Linked DNA regions of Homo sapiens: region 1 is linked to region 2. A link means that fine-mapping ties the variant in region 2 to the expression of a gene that starts in the linked region. Tissue or cell type: whole blood. Region 2 holds a variant in brackets; the other region holds the start of a gene. All regions are shown on one strand. Distances are between the middles of the regions. Region 1 holds the start of GIMAP2 (GTPase, IMAP family member 2). Region 2 overlaps LOC124901774 (a long non-coding RNA gene).

The links.
Region 1: it holds the start of GIMAP2, and the variant in region 2 is fine-mapped to the expression of GIMAP2 in whole blood (TOPMed, PIP above 0.99).

What each region holds. Positions count from the first base shown.
Region 1 is chr7:150,683,935-150,686,851 of GRCh38, forward strand. GIMAP2 (GTPase, IMAP family member 2) reads left to right here and starts at 1,772. Exons shown (of 3, transcript NM_015660.3): 1 at 1,772-1,851. LOC124901774 (a long non-coding RNA gene) reads right to left here. Exons shown (of 4, transcript XR_007060589.1): 2 at 2,188-2,242. RefSeq lists an enhancer at 1,647-1,846.
Region 2 is chr7:150,662,158-150,665,074 of GRCh38, forward strand. The region is part of intron 2 of LOC124901774 (a long non-coding RNA gene); the gene reads right to left. Among named protein-coding and RNA genes, the nearest start is that of GIMAP2, 22 kb to the right of the region's middle. RefSeq lists an enhancer at 1,928-2,147. The variant A/G (reference allele first, on the strand shown) is at 1,236.

The sequences.
Region 1 (2,917 bases), 22 kb after region 2:
CCATGGGACATAGGGGAAATGTTCCATGTATGCTCATGTTCAGAAGGGACAGGAGTGAGAAGGCTTGAACAAGAAATTTCATGAGGGAGATATTTAAAACTGTGCTTGGAAGTCTCTACAGATGATCTAAAAGATGAAGCAGGAGAAGCAATATTTGCATCTCCAAACCTAGAGGAACAGTGCAAAAACAGAAGGACCTATCTCCAGTTGCTGGGAGTGAGACCAGTTGTTAGCTCTCAGCTGTTGAGCCGTCAGACCTGTCCAGAAATTAGCTTATGCTGAAGAGAGATGCCCTATGTAAGTCAAGTGTCTTTTCCAGAGGAAGTTTGCATCCGATGGGGATTATAAAGTTCTGCTCACTCTCCTTCATTCTGAAAGTCCAACCAAACTTTAGAACTCCCTGTAGAGTCTATATTTGTTGTGACTACATCTCAGTCTCACTTCTCCCTGCCTAATCCTGGGTTCTTCCCTTCTCCCTCTAGCACATTTCCTGAGAAGATTCCCTAATAAACTTCCTTCATCCATTTTATCTTCATCTCAACAGTCTGTATTCCTAGGAACCCAAACCTTTGCACATGTACATGTACATATCACTTATGTTAGGAAACGCAGTGATGTAATTTGCAATATTAGTAGGTCAAAAGGAAAAAGACATGGAATTATATCAGTCAACGTCAAAATAAAATTTTCTAAATTTATACCACAGATAAAAGACTTTAATGAAATAGGACTAAGCAAAGTATAGCCACACTGATTTTAAAATAAACTAATTAATTTCCAATAACCAACATCAATATTAATGATAAGATATTAGGTGCCCTACAGGTAAATAAATAATAAAAGCACATTAACTCACTTTTGAAAAGGTAGCAAGCAATTGTAATTATACAAGAGAAAGCAACATAAGATATTTTTGGAAACAAGGAGGGAAAATTATCACTATTTGCAACTGAGTCTATGATAAACCTGGAAACTCCAAGACAATCAAAAGGAAATGTTTTAAATGCTAGGATGTGGAGAAATAAGAACACTTTTACACTGTTGGTGGGACCGTAAACTAGTTCAACCATTGTGGAAGTCAGTGTGGCGATTCCTCAGGCATCTTGAACTAGAAATACCATTTGACCCAGCCAACACTCCAGAGTATTACTATAGACATTTCCTAGACAATTTCTCCCCACAGGGAGGTTCTCTGAAATTACAGAGCTGGACAGGGAAGAAAGGCCCAGAATCCTAGAAGCCATGAATGAGTTATGTAAAAATGTTTTGATGGTTAATGATCCTTACAATCAGACTCAGACAAAAATGTCCCCTCTCAGGTTCCCCTTTCTGTGCCCTTCTTCCCCTGGGCAGTGCCTATCAGAGGCTCCTCTTCTCTCCCAGTGGCATCTGCTTTAGAACAATCCCTGCTGCTGGTGTCAATGAGGTTTAAGCCCTTCTCAGGGGGCCATTTGCATCTAGACAAACTTCTAACTGTTGGGACATATCCCAGCTGGGAAGGACTGAAATCCACCAACTTCCTTGGCATTCATGCCTTTCTTTCCAGTCCAGATGAAATCATTAAAACACTCTTTTTTCACTTTTGAGAAGAAGAGACAGTTGGCCCACATGACAGCAAATAACTACTGATTAACTTTCCATTTAAACTGTTTATTTTGCATAATGGCATGAAAGAGAATTTCAAACACAGGCACGTGGTGGCGTTCATTAGCAGTCAGGAAGCTCAGGAAGATTCAAGAGAGGAAGAAGACCGACTGGAGTCTCGGTTTTACTTTCTTTTTCTCTTGGAGCTGAGCTATAAGACAACAGGACTGAACAGGGAGCCAACTGTTTCTTTGAACAGTAAATCAGGTAAGCCCAGATTTACGAAAAGTTCTGCAGTGTTGATTTCTAGGTCCCAAGCCATGCACAAACATTTTCATTTTTCTTAGAACAAATTTGTCCTATTTTAAGAGAAGCAATTTAGAGTGACTGCCTTTTCCTTAAGTGGAGCCAGTTTACAGGAAACCGATGTAATTTACTTTACACATTACTGGCAAAGAAAGAATTTCCATAGTATAAAGTCAATAAAAAGTGCTAACTGGGAAGAATTTGGGCATTAATCGGTGGCTTTCAGTTTTCTGTGCTTGTACGCTTGGTCTATGCCTGCCAGATTTAAGCAAGAGAAACTAGCTGATGAAAACGTACCGATATTTCTCACTCCATAGTAGTTCCTACATTGCAAGGGCTTCATAACCAGGGGCTGTTGGGGAATGAGAAAAATTCAAGCCATTAATGGATCAAGTGAAGTGTATTTCCAGCTTAAAGGACTGCACGGTTTCCCAGAGTCATAATCTTCATTCACTGAGTCTCTCAGCAAAGACTCAACATGAGGGAGGAGGTTTGGAGAGAGTAGAGGAGGGAAGGAGGCAAGGTGGGAAAAGAAAGAGAGGGAAAGGGAGGACTGAGCCTAAGGTGTAAGGGAAGGCACACCTACAGAGAAAGCTGACAGAAGCGAAGAGTGTGCAGGCAAAACAAAAACAGAAGGGAGCCGGGCTGATCTGTGAGAGGACGGGAGGAAGAAAGCGAGAGAGAGCTGGGCATGAGGCTTACAAATGAAACCCACTTCTCAGCCCCTCAGCAAGTGATTCCAGTTCTCTGTAAAGTAGGAAGTCATTCCTTTCCCACCCACCTTGTCCCTTATGAGTAGACAAATGAAACATGGTTGTTTAGAAATATAAGGATCTTGGCCTAGTGTGATGGCTCACGCTTTTAATTCCAGAACTTTGGGAGGCCGAGGCTGGTGGATCATTTGAGGTCAGGAGTTTGAGACCAGCCTGGCCAACATGGTGAAACCCTGTCTCTACTAAAACTACAAAAATTAGATGGGCATGGTGGTGCACACCCATAATCCCAGCTACTCGGGAGGCTGAGGCAG
Region 2 (2,917 bases):
GCTGGTCTGCAGCTCCTTGTGGGCCAGTCCCTGGGTCCCCATGATGGCTCATGAGCTCCAATAAAGAATCACTGGGGACAGGTCCTGTATTAATCCCAAACATTCTTTCCATTAGACTGAGAGTTTGCTTGAGGTCAGAGATTCATGACTATCTTGTGGACATGTGATTTGCAGAGCCCAGCAGAATAAACACAAAAAATTATTAAGTAAGTGAATTTTGTTACATACCCTTTACACAGAAAAATTATTTTCCCTAGCAGAATAACACATGAAAAATTGAGTAAATAAAATTTATTACATATCCTTTACACACGAAAAAACCCCTATCTTTTTCACAGTGTAAATAGGTCTGTGCAGAGGAATATTTTTTTGCTTGTTAAAACTTTGTTTCAACATAACTTTGCTTACACAAATACACTCATATTGGTTAACAGAATGCAATTTAAGTTTAACTTATCCTACACAATTTGGATCAAAAACTTGGTACATGGTTTAAGATTTTTAAAAAGGATTTGCAATCTGGTTTATTTTTATCTATTACAAATGTATAAAAGATCCTTAATAAAATGCTGCTAAACAAGGCAGCAAGAACCTTTGGTTTGCTTCAGAAAAATAACACATATTGCACTGCATAAGTTTATAAAACTGGTGCAACAAAACATTGTTGTATGCCAGAGACATTGTTTCAATGCCAGTTTAGAAAGTTCAATAACTAATGGGTATGGAAGAGACTGGGAGAGAACCTATGTCCACATGTGAAACTGTAAAAGCTATCTGATTTAGTTAGTATTGCATGTAGATTGTAAATTCACACAAACCAAAATTCAGATACTTTCTAAAAGCAGAACTTCCATTCAACCCAGAAATCTCATTACTTGGTACATACCCAGAGGCATATAAATCATTCTACCATAAAGACACATGCACACATATGTTTATTGCAGCACTATTTACAATAGCAAAGACTTGGAACCAACCCAAATGCCCATCAGTAATAGACTGGATAAAGAAAATGTGGCACATATATACCATGGAATACCATGCAGGCATAACAAGGAACAAGTTCATGTCCTTTGCAGGAATATGGATGGAGCTGGAGGCCATTATCATCATCAAACTAACACAGGAACAGAAAACCAAACACCGCATGTTCTCATTTATAAATGGGAGCTGAACAATGAGAACACATGGACACAAGGAGGGGAACAACACACACTGGGGCCTGTTGGTTGGGC[A/G]GTGGGAGAGAGAACACCAGGATAAATAGCTAATGCATGCAGGGCTTAATACCTAAGTGATGGGCTGATAGGTGCTGCAAACCACCACGGCACACATTTACCTATGTGAAAAACCTGCATGTCCTGTACATGTATCCTGAAACTTAAAATGAAATAAAATAAAAAGAATGTAGGTTATCATTGCTTCCAAATAGGCAGCAAATCTAAAACTAAAACTGTCAGCAGTTTAGGCTTTCAGAACTCAGTTGTCAGATTCCTGCATGGCAGGTTAGGCCAGAGGCACCTGCTTCAACTAAGTGGTCATCTTGCCTACTCCTGAGGAAGTCAGAAATGGTCATTGTTGGGTCTGTCTGAATAAGGCCGTGTGTGGGTCTGCAGACTCAGAGAATAACTCTCCTGTCACCCTTGGGTCAGCACCAGCCTGGGGAGGGTCTACAGAGGGGCCTGAGCACAATTCCGCAAGGTGTCCGTGGAGAGACTCCTCCTCATCCCAGTCTGGCCTTCCAGCCATCCAGAGCACATCCCATGTGTAGGGAGGGGACATGGGCCCCAATTCTAACTCTGTCCTGTGTGGAAACCACACTGTATGTGAAGGCTGAGATAACAGATGGAGGAGGTGAGACAGAAAATGGCTGTTGCAGCCACAGGAAGTAGTGTTGCTGCATTCACAGGTAAATTTACAATAAACAGTCTTGCTTTCATATCTTGAGAAGGTTCTGGGAAATGGGCTCACATCAGTTGTAGACCACAGACCTCCTGGGGACATGCTGAGAGGCACATGAACAAAAACCTCTACACTGTATAATAAAGAGGTACAAACTTCTACAAATGGCAGGTAACACTGGTTTAAGAAAAATGCTGCATTGCCAAAGCAAAGGAAGAACTGAAACTATGAGGAGACATTGTCCAAACCTAAGTGCAAAGCCCTTGGGATGGAGGCGATCCTGACTCTTGAGGCCTTTTCTTCCTGTCCTGACCCTCCTGGGCACGCTTTGCTCCCCCATGATATTGAGGAATAGGTCAGAAACCAGGGGCTTTCAGGGGAACAGTATGGTTTGTGGTAAGGTGAGATAGGGATTGGAACATGAAGAAAGGGGGGCTGAGTGCCCATGTCTCTCAGCACAACCTGCCTCCTTGGTTATTTTGCACCAAGAGGGGGACAAAGCTGACATACTGGCCCCTCAGTCTCTGCAAGTCAACACTGTGTGGAATCTCAGGGGTCAGACCCCAGAACTTCGGGCTTTTACGAACATAGCTCCCTGGACAGGGCACTCTACTCCTCACCTCCCAGGGTTGGCATTGTCACTCTCCTGGTCTGGTCACCAGGTATGGTCTCCATTAGGGATCACAGGTCCTCAGAACCAGCCCTGTGCAGTTCAGCTGTGTTCCCACAGCTCTCTGAGAACTGAGTCTCTGTTGATGGGTCATTTGGCCAGCCTGTGCTAATGGGTGAGTAGAGTTTCGTGCTCACTGGGTAAGGTCAGAAATATCAGAGAACTTTGGATGTTGATGTGGGAAGAGAACTTAAGTCACCTCCCGCAATCCTCACTTTAACCATAAAACAAGCATCATGCCCCCAACCTTCATCTCCTGACCCCCAGGCTGCTGCTCTTTCCATGAGGTGGTGAACTTGTCAGTGGGAGGCACAGGTGCTAGGGTGCTAATGGCAAAGTCCATGCTGA